Homo sapiens: one gene and its partners. The protein of the gene in region 4 purifies or fractionates together with the protein of the main gene of each other region. This does not show direct contact. Each region holds a gene or a part of one and is shown on either strand. Other genes may lie near its edges.

Region 1 (7,902 bases), on a different chromosome or scaffold from region 4:
CACTTTTTAGCCACTGACCTTGGACAAGTTATCTACCTAGAGACTGTCTCCTCAACCGTAAAATGGGGATAAGAAAATTCGCCATTGATAGTAAGAACCAAATGAGACAATTTCCTTCAAGTGACCAACACAACACCTCATAGAAAGTATCAGTAAAATGATAGCTTTTTTCTTAATCCTAAAATAAGTGTGTTTTTAAACAATTGTTTTAAAGTAACAGCTGTAAGAAACAGAGTTAACAAAAAGATGACAATACAATTATTACAGGTAACTAAAGATAAAATCTCAACTTTCTAAATACCCAAATTCATTCATTCAACAAACATTTACCACACACCTGAGTTTGGCATTGTGCTAGGCACTAGAGACACAGTGACAAGACAAACACAATCCCTAATCTTATGATGTGTATAATCTTGGGTTTATCATGATGATGAGTATTCAGAATGAGAAACAGGGAGTTCTAGATGGGAGTCAGGGACATCAACTAGGCACAGGAATTGTAATGGGAAAAAGGAGAGGGGGTCAGGGAGGACTTTCCAGAAGAGGTAAGGTTTAGATCTGAAATACAAGTAAGAATCAGATAGGAACAGTGTGGACAGCAAGAGCCAAGAAAAAGAATGGAAATTTTGAGGACTGAAATGAGACCAGAATGGAAGAAACAGAGATGGAAAGGGAAGATGGATGCAGGCAGAGCTAGAGAAACTGACAATGCCATAATCACACAGTATAATAAGGACGGTATTAAACTTTTTAGACCTTATCCTAAAAGCAACATGAAGCCATAGAATGATTTTTCAATCAGAGGAGTGACATCATGATCACTATGGCTATATTGTGGATGAAGAATTGGAGAAAACCAAGGGTCGATGTGGGGAAACAGAGGGCTGGAGTAGTTGGTCAGGACACAGTGTAGTAAGAAAAGATAGCCTTGGATGTGATGGCATATATGAAAACGGTTCCTCAACTAATACTACTCTATTCAGTTAACCTCAACTTTTCTCAGACTTTTTTTTGTGAAAATAATCATAACACACTTTTCAGACTTTTCCGTGAAAATAAATGAATCATACCAGAAGCCATTTTTTACACATGGGAATAAAAAAGTCTTAATTTTTTCAAACTGACTAAGTATTTCAAACTCTGCTATTAGGAATATAACACTGCACTTGAAGCAGAAAATATCATGAGCTCATAGACTGCATTTCAGAATAGACACATTAAATTATTAAATAAAAAATAAGCTTTATAAGGACATCAGCTGTCACTTACTGATCATTTGCTATGTGCTAGGTCATGTACTTTACATGCTTTTTTTTTAAGAGATGAGGTCTTGCCCTGTCACTCAGACTAGAGAGCAGTGGCACGATCATAGCTCACTGCAGCCTCAAACTCCTGGGCTCAGGAGAATCCTCCTGCCTGTAATCCACCTGTAAATAGCTGGGATTACAGGTGCACCTCCCAGCTATGTTTGCATTCTTATTTAACTTTCACCCCAATCCTAAAAAATAGGCACTATTTATTATTATTACTATTATTTAAAGATAATAAACTATGGCCAGGCGGGGTGGCTCATGCCTGTAATCCCAGAACTTTGGGGAGGCCAAGGAGGGCAGATCACTTGAGGTCAGGAGTTTGAGTCCAGCCTGGCCAACATGGTGAATCTCCACCTCTACTAAAAATACAAAAATTAGCTGGGTGTGGTGGCACATGCCTGTAGTCCCAGCTACTCGGGAAGGTGAAGCACAAGAATTGCTTGAACCTGGGAGGCGAAGGCTGCAGTGAGCCAAGATCGCACCATTGCACTCCAGCCAGGGTGACAGAGTGAGACTCTGTCTCAAAAAATACAATAAATAAATAAATAAATAAATAAATATAATAAACTATATTCTGGGCTGGGTGCCGTGGCTCCTGCTATAGTCCCAGCACTTTGAGAGGCTGAGGTGGGAGAATCACCTGAGCCCAGGAGTTCAAGACCAGCTAGGCAACACCTAGGCAACACAGTGAGACCCCATCTCTACAAAAAATTTTAAAAATTAGCCAGGCATGCATAAAAAGGAACAAAATAATGGCACTGGCAGCAACCTGGATGGAACTAGAGACTATTATTCTAAGAGAAGTAACTCAGGAACAGAAAATCAAACATCGTATGTTCTCACTTACAAGTAGGAGCTAAGCTAGGAGGGTGCAAAGGCGTAAGAACGATACAGCGGACTTTGGGAACTCAGGGGAAAGAGTGGGAGGCGAGTGAGAGATAAAAGACTACACATTGGGTACAGTGTACACTGCTTGGGTGATGGGTGCACCAAAATCTCAGAAATCACCACTGAAGAACTTATTCATGTAACTAAACACCACCTGTTCCCCAAAAACTTATTGAAATTAAAACTAAATTTAAAAAAAAATTAGCCAGACATGGTGGGATGCTCCTGTAGTCTCAGCTACTGGGAAGGCTGAAGCGAGAGAATCACTTGAGTCCAGGAGGCTGAGGCTGCAATGAGCCGTTATAGTGCCACTGCACCCCAGCCTGGGTGACAGGGTGAGACCTTGTCTTGAAAAAAACAAAACAAACAGAAAACAACAACAACAACAAAACTATATTCTGGGTCATAAAACAAGTCTTAATAAATTTAAAAACATTCAAGCCATAAAAAATATGTTCTCTAAATTGAGATTAAATTAGAAACCAATAACCAAAAATCTCTAGAGAATTTAAAAATATTTGGAAACTAAATAACACATTTCTAAATAACCCAGGATCAAAGAATAAATCAGGAGGTAAAATAGTATTTTGAACTACATGAAAATGAAAACATAGTATGTCAAAATCTGTGGGATGACACTAAAACAGTACTCAGTGGCAATTTATAGCATTAAACTCCCATATTAGAAAGGAAAAAAGGTCTCAAACCATGGCCTCAGCTTCCACTTTAAGTAGAAAGAAAAGAGGAAATTAAGCCCAAAGTAAGTAAGAAAAAAAAATAAAGATCAGAGCAGAAATAGATGAAATAGGAAACATAAAAACAGAAAGAAAAATTAATAAAACCAAAAGCTGGTTCTCTGAGAAGATCGATAAGATAAACCTCTAGTCAGACTAATCAGGAAAAAAAGAAAAGACGTAAGTTACCAATATCAAAAATGAGAAAAGTTATACCACTACATTCAACATACTAAAAGAATAATAAGGGAATAGTATAAACAACCTTTTGCCAATGAATTTGACAACTTAGATGAAACGGACTAATTCCGTGAAAGACAAGCTACCAAACCTCACTTAAGAAAAAACTGGCTGGGCACGGTGGCTCACGCCTGTAATCCCAGCACTCCGGGAGGCCAAGGCAGGCGGATCACCTGAGGTCAGTAGTTTGAGACCAGCCTGGCCAATACGGTGAAACCCGTCCCTACTAAAACTACAAAAATGAGCCAGGCATGGTGGCGTGTGCCTGTAATCCCAGCTACCCAGGTGGCTGAGGCGAGAGAATCGCTGGAACCCGGGGAAGCAGAGGAGACAGTGAGCCGAGATCGCGCCACTGCACTCCAGCCTGGGCAACAGAGCAAGACTCTGTCTCAAAAAAAGAAAAAAAAAAAAAGAAAAAATAGATAACCTGGCCGGGCACGGTAGCTCATGTCTGTAATCCCAGTGCTTTGCAAGGCTGAGGTGGGAGGACTGGTTGAGTCCAGGAGTTCAAGACCAGCTTAGAAAACATAGTGAGACCCTTATCTCTACCAAAAAAAAATTAAAATTAGCTGGGCATGGTGCGGTGGCACACACATATAGTCCCACCTACTCAGGGGGCTGAAGTGGGAGGATCGCTTGAGCCCGGGAGGTAGACGCTAAGTGAGCCATGATCACACCACTGCACTCCAGCCTGGTCGACAGAGTGAGACCCTGTTTCAAGAAAAAAATAATAATAATAGAAAAAATTAGCCAGGCGTGGTAGCACACACCTGTAGCCTCAGCTACTGGGGAGGCTGAGGTGGGAGGATTGCTTAAGGCCAGGAAGTCGAGGCTGCAGTGAGCTGTGATTGTGCCACTGTACTCCAGCCTGGGTAACAGAGTGAGACCCTGATTTAAAGAGAAAAAGAAAAAATACATAATCTGAATAGTCTTATGTCTATTAAAGAAATTGAATCAATAGTTGAAAACCTTCCCACAAAGAAAACTTCAAGCCCAGATGGCTTCACTGATGAATTCTACCAAACATTTAAGAAATAATACCAATTCTAGACAAATTCTTCTAGAAAACTGAAAAGAAGGGGATACTTTCTAACCCATTCTATGAAACTAGCATTATCACAATACCCAAACCAGAAAAATGCATTAGAAGAAAACTATATACTTACATCCCTCATGAACATGGATGCCAAAATTTTTTTAATTTAGCAAATAAATCTAACAATATATGAACAGAATAATGCATCATGACCAAGTGGCAAAGCTAGTTTCACATTCAAAAATCAATCAATGTAATTGACCATATTAACAAACCTTAAAAAAAAAGATTATTTCAATAGGTGCAGAAAAAAAATTACATTTGACAAAATCCAATATACAATCCAAAAACTCTCAGCGAACTAAGAATAGAAGGGAACTTCCTCAAACCTACAAAGGATATCTGTTAAAATTTACAGACATCATCATACTGGTGAAAGAATGAATGCATTTTCCCTAAGATCAGGAACAAGACCAAAATGTCCACTCTCACCACTTCTAATTTACTGGAGGTTCTAGCCTCCAGGTGCTATCAGGTAACAAAAATAAATTAAAGGAGATTGGAAAGGACAAAGTAAAAACTGTCTTTACTTGCAAACAACATTTTTTTTTTTTTTTGAGACAGAGTCTTGCCCTGTCACCCAGGCTGGAGTGCAATGGCACGATCTTGGTTCACTGCAACCTCCGCCTCCGAGGTTCAGGCGATTCTCCTGCCCCAGCCTCCCGAGTAGCTGGGATTACAGGCACGTGCCACCATGCCTGGCTAATTTTTTTATTTTTAGTAGAGACAGGGTTTCACCATGTTGGTCAGGCTAGTCTCGAACTCCCGACCTCGTGATCTGCCTGCCTCGGCCTCCAATGTGCTGGGATTACAGGCGTGAGCCACTGTGCCTGGCCAACATATTCTTACAAGTAGAAAATCCTACAAAATTTACAAAAAACCCAAAACATAAAAAAACTACTAGAATTAATAAGTTTAGCAAAGTTTCAGGATACAAGGTCAATATACAAAAATCAACTGTGGGTACTAAGAGGGCAGTCATCAAAAAGACAGTAACAAGTGCTGGCAAAGATGTGAAGAAATCAGAAACCTCACACATTGCTGATGGGAATATAAAATGGTGTAGCTACTGTAGAAAAGTTTGGCAGCTCCTCAAAACATTAAACAAAGTTACCATGTGACCTAGTAATTCCACTCTTAGGTATATACCCAAGAGAAACTAAACATATGTTCACACAAAAATCTGTAAAAGAATGTTCAAAGTAACATTATCTGTAATAGCTAAAAAGTAGAAACAACAAATGTTCACCAACTAATAAATGGATAAACAAAATATGATATATCTATACAATATTATTCAGACATAAAAAATAATGAATTGCTGGCCTAGTGCAATGGCTCACGCCTGTAATCTCAGCACTTTGGGAGGCCGAGGCGGGTGGATCACAAGATCAGGAGTTCAAAACCAGCCTGGCCAATATGGTGAAACCCCGTCTCTACTAAAAATACAAAAATCAGCCAGGTGCAGTGGCTCACGCCTGTAATCCCAGCACTTTCAGAGGCTGAGACAGGCGGATCACAAGGTCAGGAGATCAAGACCATCCTGGCTAACACGGTGAAACCCCGTCTCTACTAAAAACACAAAAAATTAGCTGGGTGTGTTGGCGGGCGCCTGTAGTCCCAGCTACTCAGGAGGCTGAGGCAGGAGAATCGCTTGAACCCAGGAGGCAGAAGTTGCAGTGAGCCAAGATCACGCCACTGCAATCCAGCCTGGGCGACAGAGCAAGACTCCGTCTCCAAAAAAAAAAAAAAAGTAATGAATTGCTGATATATGTTTATATGTTACAATAGGGATGAAGCTTGAAAACACTGTAAGTGAAAGAAGTTATTCACAAAAGGCCACATAGCATATAATTCCATTTATAGAAAATGTCCAGAATAGGCAAACTCATAGAATAGATATAGACAGTAAATTAGTAGTTGCTGGGTTGGGGGAAGGGAGGTGGTAATGGATTGGGAGTGACTGACTGCTAATGGATACAGGGTTTCTTTTTGGAGTGATAGAAATGTTCTGGAAACAGACAGCGGTGACAGCTGTACGACATTGTAAATGTACCTATGAACTATAAAGTGTAAAATGGTTAAAATCATAAATTTGATATTTGAATTTTATCACAAAAGCTACCTAAAGAAATCAATTTCATCTCTATATATTAGTAACACACAATCCAAAATTGAAATTATGAAAGCAATCCTATTCACAATAGCATCAAAAAAATACTTAGGAATAAATTAATCAAAACAAGTGCAATACTTGTACACTAAAAGCTACAAAATACAGATGAGAGAAATTAAGATATAAATAAATGGAGAGAAGCTGGACATGGTAGCTGACATGGGAAATCCCAGGGCTTTGAAAGGCCTCAGTAGGAGATTGCTTGAGCCTAGGAGTTCAAGACCTGACTGAGCAACACAGCAAGACCCAGTCTTTACAAAAACAAAAAAATGAGCCAGGTGTGGTGGCGCACAGCTGTAGTTCTCATTACTCAGGAGGCAGAAGTGAGAGGATAGCTTCAGCCCAGGTTCAAGGCTGCAGTAAGCTATGACTGCACCACTGCACTCCAGCCTGGGCAACAGAGCAAGACCCTGTCCATAATTCATTAATGTTTCAACGTTTTAAATGAAGAGAAGTATCATGTTCATGGACTGAAGACTCAATATTGTCAGAATGACAATTCAACACAATCCCTATGAAAATCCTAGCAGGATAAACTTCAAAAACATTATTTGATGTGAAAGAAAACAGATAAAAAAGGTGACATATTATATGACATCATTTATATGACATTTCAAGAAAAGGCAAAATTATAGTGACAGAAAGCAGATCAATAGTTGCTTGGGGGTGGGTCTGCAAATGGGCATAAAGGAAATTTTGAGGATGACAAGGGTGTTCTAAAGCTGGATTGTGATGATGGTTTCACAACTGTATATATTTACTACACTCATCAAACTGCACAGCTGCAATATGTGAATTTATGGCACAGTAATTATGTCTCAATAAGGGAGTTTTTTAAAAAGTAAAGATTCACTTACCATTGTAGCCTTCAAGTACAGAATCAATAATAGGTCTTGCAGTTAAGTTATAAACATCAAGTTGTTTACTCTCTGGTCCAAAAACAGTATCAAAAGTAAATGTCTTTGGAGGTTCATTGGAAGAATCAGTCTTATGTACAGTGATAGTTCCCCTCATCTCATCCACACTGACAGCCTGTTTGTAGCACATTGATTTCTCTCTCTCATTGAGGGGCCGGCACCTAACAACAACCTTCACATTATCGCAGCTTTCTGGCTTCTCTGATTTATTGATCTGTTGGAGATAATATTTACAAATAATGAAAAGAACATTAATTTTTACCCTCATCAGATTAAATTTATAAACTTTAAAAGGCTACTTTTCCAACTCAGTGCCTTGCACACATTAAACACTTCACAGGTATTTGTTAAATGCAATTAAAGATCTTACATATAGCTGAAAAGTTTATTAAAAGATACAAAAAGGAAAATCGTTTCTTTTAAAATGTAAAAGGGAGAGAAGAGCTAGTTCACATTTGTGGCAAAGGCTGTACAAGCAGAAACTGAACCAGTATATTATAGATCATCTTTTTGCACAAAAGTCTCTGACCCAGCG
Region 2 (7,902 bases), on a different chromosome or scaffold from region 4:
ATACACACACTCGGACCCCTGACCCCACGCCCATCCTGGGCCACGCTCGGGGCCTGCCTTCCCCTCCCTCATTACGCACTCATGGGGGGCCCTGAGGGCACGGTGGTCCTCCTCTCGGCCTTCACAGCTGGGGGTGCACCCTGCATCTTGGCTGCAGCCTGGTCCACGATCCACTGCACGGTGCCCTCATCCAGCCGGGGGAAGGGTCGGGGCACCCGTCGCAGGTGGCTGCTCTCACCGGGCCTCTGTACCTTGTGCATCGCCACGGCTGGGTACGGGTTCTCCTGTGGGGAGACGGCAGGTGTGGGGCAGGGGCCCAGGGATCAAGGCGGTACGACGCCCTCCCGTCCTGCTACCCTCGTACGTTCTTGTAGAGCTGCTCTGCCAGTTCCTGGACGTGACGCAGGACACGCTGGGGGTGGTTCTCATCCGCCCGCATCCTTGCCACCTCGTGGGCCACCAGCTAGCGGGGTAAGCAGGAGGTTAGGTAAGCCATGGTCAGGCGGAGCCAGGGCAGGGGGCTGGGAGGGCAGGGTGGAGGTGCACCTCATCGAACAGGTCCGTAGGGCGGTATGGGACCCCACGCTCTGACACAAAGCCAGCAAAGGCCATGCCCTCCAGCACCTTCATCAGGAAATCGTCCTCTACCAGCCCACGCTGGCCCAGGAAGGCTGCCTGGATGACAGAAGGAGGTCGGTCCCTCAGGGGTCTCCACCATGCGCTTATCTCCTACCCCACGCCCAGCCACCAGGCACCCCACCTTATGGAAGCGGATGACAGGCTCCGGGTGGATGCGCACGACGTGCAGGCACCAGCGATAGCCCTGCAGCAGCTGAGCGAACAGCCGCAGGAAGACCGCGCGCAGCTCCTTGTCCTGGGAGAAGAGCTGAGTGCAGGTGAGAGCCAGTCCTGCCAATCCCCACCCCAGGCTGCCCAGGAGCTTCTCCACACCCCAACCCACCCCAAGCTGCCCCGCTCCCATCCTTCTGCCCCTCCCACCATTCTGCACTCAGGGCCACCAGCTCCTCTGAAACTGTCTGGACAAGGCACTCCTGGCTCAGCACCCTCAAGGGCTCCTGTGATCAGACGCCAAGTTCCAGCCCCTTGCTGGGCCCCTGCCGCCTCGCCTGCACCACTCACGACCACCACTCCTAACTGCTGGCAGCTGCTTTGCTCCCAGGCTCCTGCTTCTGCTACTGGAGCCGGGGCCAGCCTGGGGGTGGGGCCCTGTGTGTCAGTGGCAGCAGACCTGAGTGGGGGCAGCCTAAGTGCCTGGGGTCCCCATGCAGGAGCAGCAACGACCCCCACCTGCATCTTCAGGGAGGAGGTGGATGTCGTGGGCGGAGGGAAGGCGAGGTCAGCCAACTCCAGCTCCGGGTCCAGGACCTGCCAGCACAGAATGGAGCAGGCAGCTGCACGCTGGCCCCGGCTCTAGGCTCCCCGTGCTGCCAGGTAGCCACATCCCAAAGGCCCCCAAGGCTCCCGCTTGCCCATGGTGCCCCTCACCATGCTCAGCACACTGTGCGTCTGACTCTGCAGTGGCTCTGGCAAGGGTGGAATGTGCACACACTCAGGAATGGTGACCGTCCCTCCATCCAGATCAGCAACAATCACATCGAGCTGCGGACCAAGGGAGCCGGCAGTCAGGGACCTGCAGGCCTGGGCCGTGAGGTGGACACAAAGCACAGCCCTTACCAGCTCCTGGGTCTCTGCCTGGAAGGCCGCGTTGACCCCAATGATGAAGGGCGTGGGTGTGCTGAGGACCTCCAGCAGCTGAGCCGGCAGGATGGGCACATAGGTGAAGCTGTGCAGGCCCCAGAGGATGCAGTGAGCCAGGGGACGCGGCTGGGCAAAGGGGCCAGGAGAAGGGGCTGGGAGGGCCGGGCAGGGGTCACCTGTATCTGAGAGGAAACAGCAGTGCCAGGAGGCCCCTACAGGCATCGGCGAGCCGCTGGTAGCTCCGGGACAGGAAGAGAACCTTGTGCTCCGTGAGGGCGGCACAGAACAAAGACAGCACGTTGGTGATGCCTAAAGGAAGAAGAGAAGCTTGGAGAGGACCCTGGGCCCCCACCCAGGCAGAGTGAGAACCCACATCCCTAACTACCAGTCCCCGAGGGGAAGCCATGCGGGGGTGGGACAGACAGGCTCACCTAGCTGGCGGAAGAGCAGGGCCACGCTGCAGCGGCTGACGGGCAGCGAGTCGGCCAGTGGAGTCTGGATGACCTGCCGGTCACCAGCCCCCAAAGAGATCGTCCTCTGCAGCAAAAAAAGGATCGGGGCTCAGTAGTTTGGCCAGAGCCAGCCCAGAGTCAGCCCAGAGCTCTGTGTCCCCAGGCAGACCCTGGTGTACTGACAGACCCGAGGTGGGACTGGCTGGGATGGGCAACATGGCAAGAGGGAAACGCCATGCCCTGCCTCTGTTGTCCCAAGCAGCTGCAGAGAAAACTCAGGACAGGAGTGGCTGCTTTTGACTTGGGGGTAGGGATGGGGCCTAGGTGGGCGGAAGAAACAAAGAATCCATACCGCTCCTTCCTCAACAGAGTCCAGCTGCACAGGACAGACGGGCAGAAAGACACGGTTAGACACTCCAACACACCCAGGCACAGGGCAGGGAGCAGACAAACAAGCTGACATCAACATCCAGAGACAGGCACACACCATCAAAGGAGTGGACAGAGAGGCTGAACGACACAGGCCCAGAGCACAGGTGCGAGGGCCAGGTAAGCAGGCCAGGACTGTTGGGGGCAATGGTGGCACGAGGACGCAAGAGGGAGCATCCAAGGCCTCCAGCTGTGTGTGGCTCTGGCTGGGCTCCAAATACCTACCAGGGCCCCAGCAGGAGGGCCTGTGGCTGTGCAGATACCAGCTGCCTCCAAAACTCACCTGCGAGCCCCCAGCCAGGGGCACAGTGCACGTCAGCAGGTTCCCAATCACGTTCTCCAGGCACACATTCAGGCCCTCCACGTGGATGGCATAGATGAGGCCAAGGCTGTTCTGCAATGACCAGAGCGGGGAGTGGTGGGACAGCCGATGGAAGCACCCTCGTCGTGCCTCGCCGCCCCGGCTGCCGGCCTCACCCTGAACACCTCCGTGTGGTCGAGTCGCGACACCAGTACCAGCGTCTTCGGTGCAAACAGCTGGGCAGATGGGGCAGGTGCTGTGGGAGACAGGTGGGTCTGGCCTCCCTCATCCCCCTCTTCCTCCCTCTCTGTGGCATCCTCCACGCGCGTCGTTTCCTGCTGGGGGTCAGGGGGAGACGGGGGCAGGGGGAGTTGGCCACGGCCCAAGGATGCAGCTTCATTCATGCTGTACCCAGAGGCCCCAAGCTGACCTGTGAAGGCTCCGCTGGCTCCCAGAAGGTCAAGCAGGCGCAGTAGTGGCGCTCGGAGTTGATGTCGGTGAGGACAGCAACAAAGAAGGTCGGTGGATTCCTCTCGGGACACAGCTGCCACCCGCTGGGCTGGCAAAACTGCAGGGAAGGCTCAGCAGTCAGCTCCTCCCCCTACACCTGTGGCAGGAACCAGCCCACCCGCCCCAGCATCTGCACCACCAGGCCTGGAGGCTCCAACACACACAGGCAGCTCCTTGCTTGGAGACCCTGGGGACACGTGGCCTCCTGGGCCTCAGTCTCTCCGGGTGAAGGGAGTAACAGCCTCTGACCTCCCCACCTGGGGCAAGGACCAGGAGATGGGAGAACAGTCCCCACCATCATGAGTGAGTGACAACATGACACAGTGACATGAGCACCGCACAGGCCGCCGGCCAAGCCGGTCAAACCCCCCGACAGAGGCTCTGCTGTCTTGTCCCTAGCCCAGCGGGGGGCCGGGCACTGTGGAGGCCCCTCAGTCAGGGACAAGGGCAGGGCTGTGCCCACCTGCCCTCCCCACCTGCCAGCACCGTCTCAGCACGCCCCCAACTCACCAGCTCGATGCCCTGGGGGAATGGGTTGTCCTCCCAGTCCTTCTCTGGGAAGCGCTGCAGAATCTGGCCCTGGCCTTCCCCACTCCCTGAGGACAAGAACAGGGGGTCAGAGCACCCAACCCGCCCCCCACCCACCAGGAGGCTTGAGGATCCCAGGGTGGAAACATTCCCACCCACTGGGCCCTCATCTGGCACCAGATCAGCCACAGCTCCCTAAAAATAGCTCCGTATGGAGAGTCTGCTTGACAGCTGCAGACCCCAGGGCCACCTGAGGGTAGAGAAGCCCCTGCCGCTACACCCCATTCTCCGATCCCACCCCAGAGACCTCCTTCAGCCTGACCAGCCCAGCTTCACACAGCACAGCAGCCCTCCATCGAAGGTCAACACTTCGGGACTGTTCCACAGGCCCCCACAGCATCTGCCACCACCGCCAGGCCCCCACTTAGGCTCTCGGCCCCCCAACAGTGGGCATCCCCCAGAGCTCCCTGTCACCCACCAGCCCTGGACCCAGCCGGGGGTGTGGAGGACTCAAACCTGCTGTCTGTGTGGGGTTCAAGAAGCCTCAGCCCCACAAGGCTAGAGGACACCCCCTGCGCCCACAGCCCCAAACTCTTCCCTATCCCAGCTGCTTCAGAGACAGACAAGTCCCCAGTACAGGTCCCAGAAGATGGGGTTTGGCAGCTCCCTGTTAGAACACCAGCCCCACAGCCAGCAGGACCTAGAGGGGCAGCAGCTAGACGGGAAGGATGGAGACTTGGTCCAGGACGACCACCGAAGGATGCCCAGATGGCTTCCTGAGCACCTGGACCCCAGCAGCTCTCAGAGGAGAGTGGGACGGTGGTCACACCCAGGCCTGCTCCCTGTCTCCAAATCTCCCTGTACAAAGGCCATAGGATGGGTGCTGAGCACAGCCTAAGCTCCCCTGGGCCAGGAGGAGGGCTTTCAGGGCAGGGAGAGCCAAGAGGCCTATGTCTCCCCACCAGACCCCTCCTCTCCGTGGGGCCCCAGAACTACCACATCCAGGGCCCTGTTTCCAGGCCCAGTCCACACCGGTGGGGTAAAGGTCCCTGCCTGTGGCTCACCCCTGGAGAGCCAAACCAGGAAGCCCGGTGGGGACCACAGTGGGACACTCAGGGTGTGGCTCCCGCAGCAGGACGGCTCCGCAGGCCTCCCAGGGCTTGTGGAGGATGGAGCAGGTGCAGCAGGAAAGACGAAAGCCTGCCTGCCTTCTCCTCCACACAAACCGCAGGTCCCCAGGGCCCATCCTCTGTCTGGACGGGCCTCTACACCGCCACCCACCTGGCGGAAGCAGCAGAGCCAGATGGGCAAGGCGGGGGTCATGCTCAACACAGAGCCCCTCATGGACCCCCCACCCCGGCCCCCAAGAAGCTGCAGCCCCACATCCAGCATGCCTGGTCCTCCTGGGAACAGATGAGCAACTCTGGCAGCCCAATGGCACACACTCCACGGGTCCCCTACAGGCGGGGAGACCATCTGCCCTCCAGGGTTACAGGGGCAGAGCCAAGGAAGTCGGCAGTGGGCAGGCTGCTGCTAAGTGGGAGATGGTGGGGCGGTGAGGGGCCGATTCTGACTCACAAAACCTCAGCTTCCTGCTCCCCTCCCCCTCCCACCGACACCCTGCAGAGGACAGGCGGCAGACGGGTGGGGGCCCAGGTGTCTGCGGGTGCCACACCTACCTCCACACCCCCAAGGACAGCTCACTCAGGCGCAGGCCCTGAGCTGCGGCTCCTCCCCCACCCCGCCCACTCCCCCAAAGGCCTCCTTGTGTTTGGCCCCAAACCACCATCTGGGCCCAGCCCTGGCTGGCACCCAGGGCTCACCCAGTTCTTGCCACGAGGCAGCAGGTGGAGGAAGGAAGAGGGGTTTATGAACAGGGACAGCAGTCTCTGCACTGCAGCCTCCCCAAGGCCAGGAAGGGAAGGCAGCCTTCCCCAGGAGGATGGGCAGAGTGGCAGGTCACCATCTACCTTGACCCTCTCCACCCCCCGCTAGTCTTGTGAAGCATCAACTCTCACTCAGCCTTAAGTCCTCTGCAGGGCTCTACCCTCCAAAGAGCCAGCCCTGAGCTCCACTCTCCTTGGGCTGGCCCAATGGCCCAAGTGGGCCAGGCCAAGCAGGCACCTCTCCCTGAGCTCCTCTGTGCCATGACAGCCCCAGACTGGCCCTTCAGGTCTCAGCCCACAGAGCACCCCCTCCCCTGGGAAACTCTGCCCCAGCCTGGGGCCTACAGGGACCCTAGGACCGACCTCCCTCCACCACACCCCAGTGACTGCTAGTGCACCTGTTGGCTTGGCTGGGACGGACCACAGGCTAATTAGGGCTTGTAGAACACGTACAGTCGGCTACACAACCATCCTCCCCACACCCAACAAGCAAACAGGTTCCTCAGTCGGAAGTACAGGGCACCTTCCGGAGCCCCAGGGAATGACAGAACACAGCTGGCCCCTGGAAAGGCAGGCCATGGAGGGCCCTGCAGCCCTCAGCTGTGAGCAGCTCTCCTCCTCACCCTTCTGAGGTCCCAGCCTGCACCTCAGCTCTGTGCTGTCCGGGGCCAGGCCACATCTTGGCCTCCAGGGGGATGTGGGGGGTTTTGCCACATCTTCCCAGGGTCCCCCACCCACTGAAGCTCTATTGCCATAGGAGTGACCTCCAGCAGCTGAGCTCCTTGCCCATCAGAGTGCTGCCTTTACCTCAGAATACACAGGAGGGAGGGTGCCCTCCCCACTCCTCCCCTTGGCAACAGGACGAATCCAAACGGTGTGCTGGGTGGCACTGGGCACCAAGGTTTCCTTGCCACCTCCACCTCTGAACATGGGGCTGAGGGGGCCACCTAAGGACAACACTGGGGCTTCTGTCCTGAAAGCCCCTCAAAGAGCACTCCCTCCTGCACCAATGTCCCTGCGGCCAGCCCCACGCAGACGGCAGGCCTGAAAGGCGGGCGGGCGGGCAGGCGAACACAGACCTCGCGTTCTGTCATCTGCTGGCAGCACCCCATCATCAGTGCCAGGCTCTGACGCCTGGAGGGCTGGCCCAGGCCAGCGTGTGCTGTGGGGAGGCAAAGAAGGATGGCAGCCTCTCCTGTTTCCCCACCACACTCCCCACAGTGCACGAAGACCAGCCCTGGCCGGCTCTGCTGCTTGTGGGGAACCCAGCTATAGGAAAAGAGAAAAGAAGGAAGGACAGCACCTTCCTGCTACGCCACCCACCCAACCCCAACGTGCACATGGCTCCCTCGGCCGCAGCAGCAGGCCATGCGCAGGGCCCCTGCAGCTTCCACAGCCATCCCCCCCAACCTCCCCTGCCCATCAGACCTGAGCAGTTCTGACCCAAGGCCTTGGACCCCTTCCGGCTCCCAGGGTGGAGGCTGGGAGGCAGTTGAGGCCATCCCAAACAGCCCCAACCCGCTCCAGAGGGAGGGCAGGAACGTGGGTGGGGACAGTAGATGGGGCTCAAGAATGCAGCCAGCACATCACAGTCAGGAGGAGAGGCGAGGCCATAGGGTGAAAGGTCTTTTTCTCAGATCCAAGGGGTCCAGCCCCTCCTCCCAGGCAGATGCACACTCAGCTGCTGGAGATGGAAGGCCGATGGCCAGGTCAGGGCCAGATCAAATGTGTCTCCTGTTCTCAAAGACACCTCAGCACTGGCCACGCTGTGATCAGGCCAAGAGCCGGGCAGAGGCAGTCTGTCTAGTCCTGATGCCTGCCCCAGAGCACAGAAGGTGATCCCTGACTCACCAGGTGAGGGGCCTGCAGATGGGCCAGCGCTGGCCACCATCACTCTCTGAGGTGAAAGGGTCACGGCCAGCACAGGCATTTACCTTCTCAGGGCCCCTCCCCACCTTTCCTGAGAGGTTTCCAGCTGGTAACCACTAGCAACTGGGATGCTGCCTCAGGCAGGACTCATGCACCCTCAGCACCCTGGTGCTGCACCCAGCAGCTCCAGACAGGATGTCCAGATCCA
Region 3 (7,902 bases), on a different chromosome or scaffold from region 4:
ACTCCTGAGCTCAGGAGATCTGTTCGCCATGGCCTCTCAAAGTGCTGGGATTACAGATGTGAGCCACCGCACCCGGCCCAGAAGGTCTAATTATCATTATGGAAGTACTCTTTGATTTACAGCCAGATTGTCAAGAATGTTAAACCAGTGATTCTTGATTCTGGCTTTTTTTTTTTTTTTTTAGAAGGAGTCTTGCTCTGTTGCCCAGGCTGGAGAGCAGTGGCGTGATCTTGGCTCACTGCAACCTCTGCCTCCTGGGTTCAAGTGATTCTCCTGCCTCAGCCTCCCAAGTAGCTGGGACTACAGGCACCTGCCACCACCCCTGGCTAATTTTTGTATTTTTAGTAGAGACGGGGTTTCACTGTGTTAGCCAGCGTGGTCTCGATCTCCTGACTTCGTGATCCACCCACGTCTGCCTCCCAAAGTACTGGGATTACAGGCGTGAGCCACTGCGCCCAGCCTATCTATAGATCTTATCTCTGTAATATCAGTAGGTGTTATCTGTGCCACTCAATGAAGACTATGCATGACTGACTTCAAGCATGAAGTTAGTAATCTCATCTCTGACAAAGGTGTTGCTACTAATATTAATTCATGTTTGCCTTCCAGAGACTTTTTTGGTTAAATGATCAAATTTTAATACTTCTAGATTTTATCCTCTTTAAATAAAAGGCAACATATTATGTAATTGGAAACCAATATATCTCTCCAGTATCAGTATCATTTGAAGTTATTAAAACTGCCACATTTTCTAATTTTATTTTAACTTCTCTTTCCGCCCCTTCTCTCCATAATTCAACAGTTTGAATCCATTACAAATAGCTGTATCCTGTGAGATACAATTTTTTTTTTAAATGTTTGAGACAAGGTCTTGCTGTGTTGCCTAGGCTGAAGTGCGGTAGTGCGATCACGGCTCACTGCAGCCTCGAACTCCTGGGCGCAAGCGATCCTCCCAACTCAGCCTCCTGAGTAGCTGGGACCACAGGCAGGTACCACCATGCCCAGCTAATTCTTTTTTATATTTTTTGTAGAGACATAGTCTCCCTATTTTGCCCAGGCTGGTCTCAAACTCCTAGGCTCACACAATCCTCCAGCTTCACCCTCGCAAAGTGCTGGGATTACAGGCATGAGCCACTGCACCTGGCCTGGGATACAGTTTTTGAGTAATTTTCCTGACCTTAGAAAGCCAGTGAAAGATACATTTAAAAATTCCTAAACAATGAAAAATTTAGTTTATTGGTATTGGACTCAAATGCTTTATTTGCGATTTCAATCTAGGTAAAAAGCCAAGAAAATATTGCATTTTTCTAAGTCTCACGTAGCCATTGCCCAGTCTTCTCTTGTAAAGCAGAGAAGCCAAATGGAAACTAAAATAGACAGAGTCCCCTGTCCCATTGTTCCCAGTTAAGTGCCTCTTTCATTTACTTACACAATCATGACCTTCAGAAAACAAGTCTTTCATGAAAAAATCCAGGGCATGGTTAGGAGGAAGAGGAGGTCACAAAATAACTATTCAGATCATCCATTTGTGGATGGTGGGGACTGTACTTCTTTGACAACATGGAGGAAATTTAATATCAGCACTGTTAACTTTTTTTTGACTTAAGCTACTTAATGTTTGAAATGCCAGTAGAGTATCTTGATATCTTTATAATTAAAATTTAATATAATACACTTTATTTTGTCCCTGTTTTATTTTTAAACACAGGGAGTTATTTATTCCCAGACTGCTGTGGAGAACTATGGTTCCTGGGGACAAAGCTTCTTTGAAGGGTCTTTTCAGAAAATCCCCGCTAAACGAATTGGTGTTCCTGAGGAGGTAAGGTATATTTCCAGCATTGATTAGAATTGCTGTGTGTTATACTTTGGAATTTGTAATTCAGTGTCATTTTTATGCGGTCTGGACGACATTATTTCTCCCACTGCCAGCAGAACATTTCCCCTGTTCTTTCTGGCTGTCAGGGATATTCTGGTTGTGCTTTGGCTACTGACAGCAATCTGTACTTGAGAGTGAATGTGGTATAAATTAATAACAGCATTTTTTTTGTTAGTTTGTTTTACTGTATTTTCAGCTACATTATTTTATTACATGGCATTTGTTGGTACACAGGACCCTAAGCAAATTAGACAACTATGGCCATATGAAGTTCCACATGAGATTTCGGTTAAGGTTGAAGTCTGTAAAATCAGCAGCTTTCCAAACTGCCAGCAGCGGTTTTTTTTTTTTTTTTTTTTTTTGCTTGAGACAGTGTTTCACTCTGTTACAGGCTAAGTATAGTGTCACGATCATAGCTCACTGCAGGCTTGAACTCCCACCTTGGCCTCCCAAAGTGCTGGGATGATGATGATGACGATGATGAAGACGATGACTTTTTTGACAGAGTCTCTTTGTTGCCCAGGCTGGAGTGCAGTGGCGCGATCTTGGCCCACTGGAACTTCCACCTCCTGGGTTCAAGCAATTCTCCTGCCCCAGCCTCCCGAGTAGCTGGAATTACAGATGTATGCCACCACACCTGACTGATTTTTGTGTTTTTAGTAGAGGCGAAGTTTCACCATGTTGGCTAGGCTAGTCTCGAACTACTGACCTTAAGTGATACGCCCACCTCAGCCTCCTAAAGTGCTGGGATTACATGTGTGAGCCGCCACACCTAGCTTTGCATCAGTCTTGAAATGCAATTTTTTTTTTTTTTTTTTTTTAAGAAAACAAGGCCAGGCGCAGTGGCTCATGCCTGTAATCCCAGCACTTTGGGAGGCCGAGGCAGGCGGATCACGAGTTCAGAAGATCGAGACCATCCTGGCTAACACGGTGAAACCCCGCCTCTACTAAAAATACAAAAAAATTACCCGGGTGTGGTGGCGGACACCTGTAGTCCCAGCTACTGGGGAGGCTGAGGCAGGAGAATGGTGTGAACCCGGGAGGCGGAGCTTGCAGTGAGCTGAGATTGCACCACTGCACTCCAGCCTGGGCGACAGAGCAAGACTCTATCTCAAAAAATAAAATAAAATAAAATAAAGAAAAGAAAAGGATGTCTTTCCCACAATAATAAAAATGAAAATAACTAGTAGTAAACTTACCTCTAAATGAAAAAAAAAAAAAATCACCTGCCTCCTTAGGGCAGTAGGCAGTGCATCAGTTTCATAAATGAAAAAAACAAAACAAAACAAAAAAACCCCTTTTTCTGTGAAGCAGCAAAAAGACCAGATTAGGGGCATATAATATTCCTTGATGGGGAGAACCAATTTTATTAAAAAGTCAGGTTTCCCTAAATTATAAATTTAATATCTTTTGGGAATTTAACACGCTGATTCTATCAAAAATATGTATGCAAAAATTGCCAAAAATGTTTTGAAAATGAATAATGGGAGGATTACCCTTCATGGTATAATGAAACCATGAAGCTATATTTATTTATGTACTGTGTATTTACATACTATGAAGCTGTATTTATTTACAGCATCTGGTGCTGGTAATGAAACATATTAAAAATAGTAGAACAGAACAGATTCTTGAATTGGAACCATATGTGGGAGTTTATGGAGTCAAAGTAGCATTTCAATCTGTAAGGAAAGGATAAAACACTCAGCAAAGTGTTGGGGGCATTTGGCCGTTTAGTAATAAATTAGACTCCCTATCCTGTATTATATACAAAATAACTTTCAGATTTATTGAAGTGATAATTATAAAAGCAAGCCCATGAAACTCTTTAAAAGAGTTATCATGCTTAGAACTAGCTTTTATTATCAGTTTGGTGAATGTCTTTCCAGAAATGTACTTTGCATGCATTAAAAATTTGTATTTGTTGACTTTTTTTTTTTTTTTCCTGAGACGAAGTTACACTCTTCTTGCCCAGGCTGGAGTGCGGTGGCACGATCTCGGCTCACCACAACCTCTACCTCCTGGGTTTAAGCGATTCTCCTGCCTCAGCCTTCAGAGTAGCTGGGATTACAGGCATGCGCCACCACACCTGGCTAGTTTTGTAGAGACAGGGTTTCTTCATGCTGGTCAGGCTGGTCTTGAACTCCTGACCTCAGGTGATCCACCTGCCTCAACCTCCCAAAGTGCTGGGATTATAGGCGTGAACTACCACGCCTGGCCTATTTATTGACTTTTTTACGAAAACAGAATTTACTCTGTGTTATTTTCTGAAACTTGTTATGGGTATACTATAATATCATCAAATCCCATTATGATTTGGATTTTATTTATATTTTTGTTCTTGCAGTAATTCTGCAATGAACATTATGAATATAATCATGTACTCTTGGGTGAGGGGATATGTTTCTAGAAACAGAGTTCCTGAACCAAAATAGACTTGCATTGTATTTTGGAAGATACTGTTAAATCAAACATTTGATGAGCCATGTTAACCAAGGTCTTTGGATTTGTATTCTGAAAACTAAGAGTAATATTTAATGAATTTTAATCAAGGCAATTATATTACATTTTTATTTTTGATAGAATACTTTGGGAGGCTAGGCACAGTGGCTCACACCTGTAATCCCAACACTTTGGAAGCCTAAGGCAGGTGGATCACTTGAGGTAGGAGTTCAAGATCAGCCTGGCCAACATGGCGAAACCCCGTCTATACTAAAAAATACAAAAATTAGCCAAGCATGGTGGCATATGCCTGTAGTCCCAGTTACCTGGGAGGCTGAAGCAGGACAATTGCTTGAACCCGGGACACGGAGGTTGCAGTGAGCAGAGATTGCGCCACTGCACTCCAGCCTGGGTGACAGTGAGACGCCTTCTCAAAAAAAAAAAAAAAAAAAATATATATATATATATATGTATGTATATATATATACTTTATGTGGTTTACATTATCTATATTTGCTGTATTAGAAATTAAAACCAAAATTTAAGAAATATTATTAATTCATTTTAAAATAGTAATAAAGGAGTACATGTTAACATAAATAACATTTACTTTAAAATAGCTACATTTAAAAAAAGAAACAAAAACTTTTTTTTTTTTTTTTGGTTCAAGCGATTCTCCTGCCTCAGCCTCCTGAGTAGCTGGGATTAACAGTCATGCACCAGCATGCCCAGCTAATTTTTGTATTTTTAGTAGAGACAGTGTTTCACTAAGCTGGCCATGCTGGTTCGAATTCCTGGCCTCAGGTGATCCACCTGCCTCGGCCTCCCAAAATGCTGGGATTACAGGCGTGAGCCACCGCGTCTGGCCGGTTTTTTGTGTTTTTGAGGGAGTGTGGTTTACAGATTGTTAGAGGTTGTGACTACTTGGGTGGGATGGTTGTTGTCTGGATGGCATTTCAGAAAGGAGCTCATTGGAGCAAGTCTCTTTTTGATGCGCTGACTTTAACAAACATGTTCATTGGCTGAGTTGTCACTACTGGATCAAACAGGGTTAAAACCAGCTCTGTTGCTTGTTACCATGTCTCAGTACAATCTGCCTTTTCACAGTAATGTGGGACCTTTTAAATAGTGAATTCTATACCAGCCCTGTCCAGTAGAAATATACTAATAGTCACATTTGTAATTTTAAACTTACCAGGAGCCACATAAAGTAAAAAGAGGTGAAATTAATTTTAATAATATATTTGACTTAGCCTAATACATCCAAAACATCGTCATTTCAACATGTAATCAACATGGAAAATTGAGATGATTTTCTTCATCCCTCGGAGCATCCAGGATTAATGAGATATTTTACATTATTTTTCCCATACTCAGTCTTCAAAATCCAGTGTGTGTTCTATACTTACAGCACGTCTCAATTTGGACCAGTCATACTGAAAGTGTTTGAGTAGGCGACTATGTCTAATGGCCTCGTTTTAGATAGTGCAGCACTGTACTAGCTGCTGGGAATACAAGGATGGAGAGAAGGCTTGGCTGCTCTCCAAGCTCTTAGAGTCTCAAGGAGGTATAGCCTTGTGAATATAGGACCAGGACTGGGATGAGGCAAGCAAGGCATGGACACAAAATTTAAGGACCCACTCCCTCTGAGGGAAGATTTTGCACTTGTGCAAACCTGAGAGTGAATACCTCCTTAAATCTTGCACCCTCGACACCTTATTTGCCTCACCCTAGTCCTGGCCCTGCCTGGGGGCCTTTTAAACTGCAGATTCTGGGACCCCAACCCCAGAGCTTACAATTGCAATGATCCTGGAAGGATCTAGGAATCTGAAGTCTCAGTAAGCATCCCTAGTGATTCTAATGCAGGTGTTTTGGATCATCACCCTTTGAGAAACTCTGCTTCTTCCCACAGCCTCAAGTGAGAGCTCCTTTACAAGTCAGTGAAATAACTTCCTTCTGTTTGGGTTGGGAGTAGATGTTGCTGAACTCATCAGTTCCCTATTTGAATTTTTAAGGAGTACAGTGGGAGTCTGAAGTGCCTTTGGTTTATTTTTATTTTTATTTTTTTGAAATGGAGTCTCACTCTGCCACCCAAGCTGGAATGTAGTGGTGCAGTCTTGGCTCACTGCAACCTCTTAGGCCCACGCAATGCTCCCACCTCAGCCTCCTAAGGAGCTGGGACCACAGGTGCCCGCCACTGTGCCTGGCTAAGTTTTTGAAGTTCCTCTTGTAGAGAGCTCCTTTGAATGTGTGTTGCTGGGCTTTTGGCCTGACAGGACCGCAGACTGAACAAACCAGAATGCTAGTTTATTGCTAAACAGACACATTGACTATTTCAGGGACCAAAACATAAAAGGCACGAGGTAGTGATGGAAAATGGGGTTGTGGAGGACAATGAAAGGCATGGAAGGAAGTGAATTGTTTGAAATGGGAAAGAGCAGAGCTGAAGCACTGAGTTCACTTATGGCTTCTTGACGTCATGTAGCTTGCTTGACATCGTCTAAGGCTCCCTCATACCTTGCCACCTTTACCCTAGTCACCTACCTGATTTCGGTGATGCTCAGGTAGAAAGGGAAATTGTAGGAAAAGGAAGTTGTCTATGTACTGTGAGGTTGTGGTGCACATGCACACACTGTTGGATTCATGTTACAATCATGGGCTTTGAGATGCCTTTACTGGGGAATGTGAGGCGGTTAGAAATGGGGAGTATTTGCTTTTACCTATGCACATGTGTGTTTCTGTTTCCAGGTCTCCTCTGTGGTCTGCTTCCTACTGTCTCCTGCAGCTTCCTTCATCACTGGACAGTCGGTGGATGTGGATGGGGGCCGGAGTCTCTATACTCACTCGTATGAGGTACCAGGTGAGCAGCTGAGGAATGAGCAGTCACCAGCTTTATGCTGTGTCATGTTCAGGGGTTTAAAATTTATTATAAGTAGTTACTTAAGAGATGAGGGTGCTCTCTTATAGAACATCAAAATGTACAAAATGTTTATATTCATGATGTGATTTTTTTAATGAAATATTCCTAGTCACAGAAAATATCTAACTATCTATATTATGGAACTGAGCTTTTTGTGCATGCATAGGTTGGTGGAATTTGAACCCTGAAAAATATTCTCAGTATATGTTTCGAAAGAGGAGACAGAAAAGAGGCAAGAGCATGCTATAGTTTTAAAGATTTAATTCCATTTTGTTCCTCCAGTAAATGGCTTACATATCTGAGCAGAAGAATCAGGCCTGCTAGGTGGGGTGGGGTGCTATGGTGCTATTTTGTGCTCTCTTTGAGATATATATTGAATGAAGGCATATGAAATTTCTGTATTCATCATTTTTGATGTACAAAAACAGAAATTTGGCCGGGTATGGTGGCTCATGCCTGTAATCCCAGCACTTTGGGAGGCTGAGGCAAGTGGATCACTTGAGGTCAGGAGATAGAGACCAGCCTGGTTAACACAGTGAAACCCCGTCTCTACTAAAAATACAAAAAAATTAGCCAGGCTTGGTGGCGGGTGCCTGTAGTCCCAGCTACTTGGGAGGCTGAGGCAGGAGAATGGTGTGAACCCGGGAGGCGGAGGTTGCAGTGA
Region 4 (7,902 bases):
TGCTACATCAGATATCAAATACCCTTTGGACTACTTTTATAATACTGCTGTATAGGAATAGTAACAGCTATTACAGATTAATCTTATAAATTCTGTTTTTTCTTGGGGTCATGTTAAAGAAAAAATTAGTCTGACTTTATTGAGGACTGTTGCAATAAGAACATTGCAAAGATGAAGAATTTGACCAGATAGGGTGATCAGATATCAGGGGTAGAAGATTCTGTCTAAACTGACTTAGAAGTATTCTTATTAAAACTGGGCTAGGCAGCCCAAAGATAGGATTGGGGCCAGGGTTTGAGGTCTATTCAAGAAGATGGCTCAGAGGAACCTGACTGAAGTTTGGTCAGTGAGAGAGTCTTTTGCTGGTGTGTTGGAATGTTCCTACAGATGCCCAACTACTCAGGAGGCCGAGGCCAGAGGATTGCTTGAGCCCAGGAATTTTAAACCAGCCTGGGCGACATAGTGAGATCCTCTCTCTCTCTTAAAAAGAGTGTTGGCTGGGTGTGGTGGCTTACACCTGTAATCCCAGCACTTTGGGAGGCCAAGGCGGGTGGATCACGAGGTCAGGAGTTCAAGAAGAGCCTGGCCAACATGGTGAAACCCGTCACTACTAAATACAAAAATTAGCCAGGCATGGTGGCGCATGCCTGTAATGTAATCCCAGCTACTCGGGAGGCTGAGGCAGGAGAATTGCTTGAATTGAGGGAGGCGGAGGTTGCAGTGAGCTGAGATCGCGCCACTGCACTCCAGCCTGGGTGACAGAGCAAGACTCCGTCTTGGGGGGAAAAAAAAAATATATATATATATATGTGTGTGTGTGTGTGTGTATATATGTGTGTGTGTGTGTGTGTGTGTGTACATATATATGTGTGTGTGTGTGTATATATATGTGTGTGTGTGTAAGTGTGTGTACATATATGTGTGTGTGTGTGTGTATATATATGTGTGTGTGTATATATATATAGTCAGTCATTATAAATATTTTCCAGCCTCCTGCCTACTTGGACCACAGGCTTTGGCGACTCACTCCACAAAAGGTCCCTTATGGTTAGGAGTCATCTAATTGTTTTCATTGAATACATTCATTGGTAATGTTCCCTTCAGCTGAAACTAAGCTATAGGGAGCATACAGCTAGATTCTCTCTTGTTAAAAGGCATGAGAGGATGCTTACATGAACTGTGGAGGAAATGCAGTGCTACCTAATGATTTTAGGACAAAGGGTATGTGAAGGCCAGTGTGTTTTTCAAAGTGATTGGGGGAAATAAAGTTTTTTTTTTTTTGCCCCTTATTTAATTTCTGAAGTCATGCATGATTTAGAACCTGTCTTTTTTTGTTTGTGAACTTCAGTGCAGTAGTGTGGTTGACGGTAATTTTGAAGAAGTTCCCAGGGAGACGGCAATTCAGTTTAAACCTCCACTATACAGACAGCGGTACCAGTTCGTTAAAAATTTAGTGGATCAACATGAGCCTAAGAAGGTAGGTATTTCTCTTTCCAAACATTTAATTATTAAGACTAGTAGACTAGTCATATGAGGTGTTTTGTCAAATGGATTAGTATGGAGAGACTTTTCACAGGGGTTATTGCAATAGGGAGAATGCCGTAACCACAAGATCTGCAGGTGTCTCAAGAGTTAAGCAAAAGGGGTTTTTCTTTTACTGGAGAAGTGAACAAAGCTAGAAACTAGGGAGGTGGGATGAGAGGGTGGTTTGAAAGGACAGTGGAATGGGGAGCCTTAAGGAGGGGGCTGTTTCCTCAGGCTGTAGTGCAGGGCCCTGGGGGAAGAAGTAAAGTTTGAATAAAGTATGGTTAAAAAAGGAATTTTCTTCCCATTGATCAGTGGGGACAAGTATTCATGATAATCATTTGAGGCAAAGAATGGAAACACAAGGAATCTTATCTAAGTTTTATGGAGGAGGGTGGTTTTTTGCAGTGAGCCCTTTCCTGGAACACAAAGCACAGGTGGATTCCTTTAGCAGATGCCAGAAACACAGGGCTCAGACAGAATTCAGCATTGTCAGGTTCAAATGTGAAGAAAATCTTAAGATTTTATAGTTGGATGTGATCTTGTAGGTACCGTACTTCTAGAGCATTTAGTTAGAATATCAGGCAAACTGGTATTGTAGCCACAGGTATTGTGGTTCTTTTAAAATTAGATGATAATGGGCCGGGTGCAATGGTTTACACCTGTAATTCCGGCACTTTGGGAGGCTGAGGCAGGTGGCTAGCTTGAGACCAGCCTGGCACCATAGTGAGACCCTGTGTCTACAAAAAATAAAATTAGCTGTGCATGGTGGTGCGTGCCTATAGTCCCAGTTACTCAGGAGGCTGAGGTGGGAGGATCCCTTGAGCCCAGGAGGTTGAGGCTGCAGTGAGCTGTTATCACCTGCATTCCAGCCTGGGCAACAGAGAAAGAGCCCGTCTCAAAAAGAAAATTAGATCATAATGAACCTACTCGGTTAACTTCAGAGTAAAGTCATAATTGCATATAATCTACATCCATCCATCCATACCTGGTTACTATACTAATGGATTGGATGTGAATTAGATGCGGGTAAGGTGAATTTCTAGATGAAAGCTTTCTTTTTCTGCTTGATGTTGAAGACTCAGTGAAGATTCCTGTGTGTGAAGGTTTCCCTTAACTCCACCACTACTGTTTCTACACTTGGACACAAAGGCGTAGGTATTAGTTTATATCTTTGTAGCCATCTAGGCATGTGTATTCAGGTAAAGCATCTAAAATTGGCTTTTTGGCAGCTCAGAGTTCAGTATGGAATTTCAGATGGTTTGAGGTAATTGTTTAATCAAATAAATGTGTGAGGGGTGAAAGCTAAGTTTTAGAAAGCTTTGTTTGCTGAAATATGCTGAGAATATTTGACTCCAAATTCTGATTCTGAATGGGAAAACTGTGTGTACGTAATTGTTTCTCATTAGTTCAATATAGACAATAACAGTTGTTCTGGAATAGGAATGGACCTTTCTATTTTAGTGTGATCAAATAGAAATTTGCCTATGGGCTTATAAAGTTTCAGGTTAGTGTGTGTGTGTGTGTGTGTGTGTGTGTGTGTGTGTGTGTGTGTAGCATCTTCTGCCAAAAAGATCCTTCCATATAATACTTTCATTATTTTATTACTGATATATACTCCACTCTCTCCTCCTCAAAAAAAAGTTTTTGATCATACTTCTCTTGCTATAAATGTCTTTGAAATAACATTCTGTCTCATCTACAGGTTGCAGACCTGGGATGTGGTGATACTTCACTCTTAAGGCTGCTAAAAGTCAATCCATGCATTGAATTGCTTGTTGGAGTAGATATTAATGAGGATAAATTACGATGGAGAGGGTAATACTTAGTTTCTGAAAGAATTATGCGTTAATCTAAAACTAATGGCATTATTGAGTTTAGAGAAAGTGTTGATTTTATATTTGTTTTAAAAGATTGGGGCCATTAGGGATCTTCAACTCACTGAATAATCAGGCTTTGCCATAACACTAAAAATACCTGCATTTTATTGCTACCAACTTAAAGAATAGCCTCAATTAAATGATTATAATAATCAAAGCATTGTAAATTAAAATTCAGATAGCAAAATCTCATCACTTTAATGCTGGACACTATGATAATTTATAGCAGAGGATTTAAAATGCCCCAGAACACTGAGGCCAAGGCTCCAGGCCACCGCCTGCATTTTGAACCATAGCATTTCTCCTATCTCTTGTATATATAGTATATATACATTAGATTTCCACAGATTGCTTCAAGAATATTCTTTTTCTAAAGAACAAAAATCTCAAAATCACTGAATCAAAGTAAGCTGGAAAACCAAAAGTATTACAAATGAAAACAATATAACAATATTAAATATTCAGTCTTTTTTTCATTGGCCAGTAACTTCCCACTGTGAGAGGAAGTTTCCCCATGACCTGGTCTTTAATATGTCAAGACAAGGAAAACAGGCTGTGTCAGACTTATATCAATAGAGGTAGAAGATAATTATCAGAGGATCTGAGTTCTGTAGCTGGTGAGAATTTTTAAATAGATAATGTTCAGAAAGTTTCTTCAATAATTATTTTGCAGGGATTCGTTAGCTCCTTTCCTGGGGGATTTTCTGAAACCTCGGGATCTGAATTTGACCATCACATTGTATCATGGCTCCGTTGTGGAGAGAGACTCTCGTTTGCTTGGATTTGACTTGATAACGTGTATTGAATTGTAAGTTTTAAACTGATACACTGTATAACTGTTCATTTGAAAAGCCTGAATAAGTCTCAGTGATCTTAGTGTCCTAAATATAATAGGTCTTGATTATTGTAAGGAAAACTGCTCATTGGTTGGGAATATCTTTTTACTCTGCTTTTCCAACATTTTACTTAGAAATTTCAAGTATACAGATAAATTGCCACAAATACATAGTACCAAGAATACCTATACCCCCCTTTATCCAGATGTTAACATCTCACTTTTTAAATCATTTGTACATTGCACCCTCCCTCTCCTGTTCACCCCTCCTCCATCTCCCTTTAGAGTTATTTTTTTTCCTGAATCAATTAAGGGTATACACATGGCCTTTTGCCTCTACTAAAAAATTCAGTTTAAAAGTTGGAGGCCTCACACTACTTGACTTGAAAATGTACTACAAAGCAGTAGTAATAAAAACATCGTGGTTCTGGTATAAAAACAGAGACATAGACCAATGGAACAGAATAGAGAGAACCCAGAAATAAATCCATGCATTTACAGCCAACTGATTTCAACAAAGACACCAAGAACATACATTGGCAAAAGGACACCCTCCTCAATAAATGGTACTGGGAAAACTGCATATCCATATGCAGAATGAAATTAGACTCCTATCTCTCACTGTATACAAGCATCAACTCAAGATGGATTAACGAGTTAATTGCAGACCTAAAACTATGAAAGTACTGGAAGAAAACAGGAAATGCTTCAGGACATTGGTCTAGGCAAAGATTTTGAGTAAGACTACAAAAGCACAGGCTACAAACAGAAATACACAAATGGGAATATATGAAACTGAAAGGTTTCTGCACAGCAAAGAATAGAGTGAACAGAACCTATAGAATGGGAGAAAATACTTGCAAAGTATTCATCAAGGGATTAATATCTAGAATATACAAGAATCTCAACAGCAAAAAAACCCCAAATAAAAAGTGGGCAAAGGACCTGAACAGATATTTCTCAAAAGACATACAGATGGTTAACAAGTAGATGAAAAAATGCTCAACATCACTAGTCATCAGGGAAATGCAACTCAACCACAGTGAGATATCTCACCCCATTTAGAATGGCTGTTATTAAAAAGACAGTAAATGCTGGCAAGGATGCAGAGAAAGGGAACTCATATAAACTGGTGTGAATGTAAATTAGTACAGCCGTTATTGAAAACAGTGTGGAGGTTTTTCAAAAAACTGAAAATAGAACTGCCATGTGATCTAGCAATCCCACTACTGGGTATTTATCCAAAGGAAAGAAATCAGTTATATTGAAGAGAGATGTGCACCCCAATGTTTATTAACAGCACAGTAGCCAGGATACGGAATCTACCTAAATGTCCATCAGTAGATGAATGGATAAAGAAAGTGTGGTATTTAGGCTGGGCATGGTGGCTCACGCCTGTAATCCCAGCACTTTGGGAGGCCGAGGCAGGTGGATCACCTGAGGTCAGGAGTTCAAGAGCAGCCTGGCCAACATGGTGAAACCCCGTCTCTAGTAAAAATACAAAAAAATTAGCTGGGCGTGATAATGGGCCCCTGTAATCCCAGCTACTTGGGAGGCTGAGGCAGGAGAATCACTTGAACCTTGGAGGCAGAGGTTGCAGTGAGCCAAGATCACGCCATTGCACAACGAGCAAAACTCCGTCTCAAAAAAAAAAAAGGGATGTATATGCACAATGGAATACTATTCAGCCCTAAAAAAGGAATGAAATTGTCATGGATGAACCTGGAGGGCATTAAGTGAAATAAGTCAGGCATAGAAACACTGTTGCCTGGGCTGGAGTGCAATGGCGCGATCTCGGCTCACTGCAACCTCTGCCTCCTGGGTTCAAGTGATTCTTTTGCCTCAGCCTCCCGAGCAGCTGGGATTACAGGTGCCTGCCACCACACCTGGCTAATTTTTTGTATTTTTAGTAGAGATGGGGTTTCACCCTATTGGCCAGGCTGGTCTTGAACCCCTGACCTCGTAATCTGCCCACCTCGGCCTCCCAAAGTGCTGGTATTACAGGCGTGAGCCACTGTGCCTGGCTGGTTTACAATTTTCTTGTGAATTGCATAGAAGCTCAGCCCTCTGTGAAGCATTTTTGTCAATGTCTAGTTTGCTTAGGACACACTGACTTAGATGGGATGGCAGCAAGACTTTGTCAGACCCGGTTTTGGTAACATTTAATTGTTATATAATTGCAAATTTACAGAAGTTGCAGGAATGGTCCAAGGAATTCTCATCTGTTCTTTACCTAGATTTACCACTTATTTATATTTGATCCTATTTACTGTGTCTTTTTCCCTAAATATAACTTTCTACGTGTATTTTTTATCTGAACCATCTCAGAGTAGGTTGGATACACTGTGTCCTGTTACCCTAGATACCTTGGTATGTATATTCTGAGAACAAAGACTTCTTACCATAACCATGTAATTCTATCAGGAAATTGAACATTGATACAGTACGATTACCTAATCTAAGTCCACATTCAGCATTCATCATTTGTTCCAGTAATGTCTTTCTATAGCTATTTTAAAATTTAGCTATAATTTAAAATGGCCCAAGATCACACAATGCATTTGTCACGTTTGCCTGGGCTCCTTTAATCTGAAGCAGGTCTGTGCAGCCTTTCTGCCTGGTCCTATTTGCCCTTGATATTTCTGAAGAATATGTGCTATTTTCTAGAATGTCGCTGTATCTGAGTGTCTCCTCATTATCAGATTCAGGGCATGCATTTTTGACAAGAATATCATAGAAGTGATTTTGTCCTCCTTGATGCATTATATCAGGGAGGTATAACCTCAGAGACTTTTTTTTAGAGGTATTGATAATGAGGCCATAGAGCACAGCAAAGGACCTTGGTTGGATAAGGGAGCCATCATAGATGGAGTTGGGGGGTAGGAAAGGATGAGAATATATGAATAATTGTTCTTTTTCCCCCTCCCCTCCCCTCCCTTCCCCTCTCTTCTCTTCTCTCTCTTTCTCTTTCTTTCTGTCTGTCTCTCTCTCTTTCTTTTCTTTCTTTCCTTCCTTCCTTCCTTCTTTCTTTTTCTTCTATCTTTCTTGACTGAGTTTTGCTTGTCACCCAGGCTGGAGAGCAATGGTGCAATCTTGGCTTGCTGCAACCTCTGCCTCCTGGGTTCAAGTGATTCTCCCGCCTCAGCCTCCCGAGTAGCTGGGATTACAGGCATGCACCACCACACCCAGCAAAATTTTGTATTTTTAGTAGAGACAAGGTTTCATCATGTTGGCCGGGCTGGTCTTTAACTCTTGACCTTGGGTGATCCATCCACCTTGGCCTCCCAAAGTGTTGGGATTACAGGCGTGAGCCACTGTGCCTGGCCCGAATAATTGTTCTTAGGTCATATAAGCATTATTACATATTCAAAGAAGGGAGAAATCGATACACAGATGGAAATTGTTTTTGATAAATCAATTAGAAAAATAGGTGCAAGTGAAGCTAGATTTTATTATGTCTTTCTCATTAACCATTTTAGAATAGAACATTTGGATTCAGGTGATCTGGCCAGATTTCCTGAAGTGGTATTTGGGTACCTGTCTCCATCCATGATTGTCATCAGCACACCAAACTCTGAATTCAATCCCCTGTTTCCATCAGTGACCTTAAGAGATTCAGATCATAAATTTGAGTGGACCAGAATGGAGTTTCAGACCTGGTAA

Evidence for each region.
Region 1: the proteins of HENMT1 (region 4) and KIF3A purify together in Homo sapiens (affinity purification with mass spectrometry; 2 studies listed by BioGRID and IntAct, with this or other methods). This does not show direct contact.
Region 2: the proteins of HENMT1 (region 4) and SBF1 purify together in Homo sapiens (affinity purification with mass spectrometry; 2 studies listed by BioGRID and IntAct, with this or other methods). This does not show direct contact.
Region 3: the proteins of HENMT1 (region 4) and PECR purify together in Homo sapiens (affinity purification with mass spectrometry; 2 studies listed by BioGRID and IntAct, with this or other methods). This does not show direct contact.

Annotation. Positions count from the first base shown.
Region 1 is NC_000005.10:132,726,898-132,734,799, forward strand, and holds part of KIF3A (kinesin-like protein KIF3A), read right to left. Parts: intron 7,582-7,902; coding exon 7,308-7,581; intron 1-7,307. UniProt on the Homo sapiens protein: Microtubule-based anterograde translocator for membranous organelles. Plus end-directed microtubule sliding activity in vitro. Plays a role in primary cilia formation. Plays a role in centriole cohesion and subdistal appendage organization and function.
Region 2 is NC_000022.11:50,464,455-50,472,356, forward strand, and holds part of SBF1 (myotubularin-related protein 5), read right to left. Parts: intron 4,008-7,902; coding exon 3,922-4,007; intron 3,470-3,921; coding exon 3,332-3,469; intron 3,240-3,331; coding exon of another isoform or gene 3,237-3,239; coding exon 3,078-3,236; intron 2,995-3,077; coding exon 2,884-2,994; intron 2,257-2,883; coding exon 2,151-2,256; intron 2,029-2,150; coding exon 1,896-2,028; intron 1,805-1,895; coding exon 1,696-1,804; intron 1,621-1,695; coding exon 1,507-1,620; intron 1,387-1,506; coding exon 1,309-1,386; intron 875-1,308; coding exon 761-874; intron 676-760; coding exon 547-675; intron 464-546; coding exon 365-463; intron 285-364; coding exon 80-284; intron 1-79. UniProt on the Homo sapiens protein: Acts as an adapter for the phosphatase MTMR2 to regulate MTMR2 catalytic activity and subcellular location. Promotes the exchange of GDP to GTP, converting inactive GDP-bound Rab proteins into their active GTP-bound form.
Region 3 is NC_000002.12:216,043,180-216,051,081, reverse strand, and holds part of PECR (peroxisomal trans-2-enoyl-CoA reductase), read left to right. Parts: intron 1-1,708; coding exon 1,709-1,819; intron 1,820-7,066; coding exon 7,067-7,178; intron 7,179-7,902. UniProt on the Homo sapiens protein: Participates in chain elongation of fatty acids. Catalyzes the reduction of trans-2-enoyl-CoAs of varying chain lengths from 6:1 to 16:1, having maximum activity with 10:1 CoA. Has no 2,4-dienoyl-CoA reductase activity.
Region 4 is NC_000001.11:108,651,026-108,658,927, reverse strand, and holds part of HENMT1 (small RNA 2'-O-methyltransferase), read left to right. Parts: intron 1-1,348; coding exon 1,349-1,477; intron 1,478-3,229; coding exon 3,230-3,342; intron 3,343-4,077; coding exon 4,078-4,212; intron 4,213-7,718; coding exon 7,719-7,898; intron 7,899-7,902. UniProt on the Homo sapiens protein: Methyltransferase that adds a 2'-O-methyl group at the 3'-end of piRNAs, a class of 24 to 30 nucleotide RNAs that are generated by a Dicer-independent mechanism and are primarily derived from transposons and other repeated sequence elements.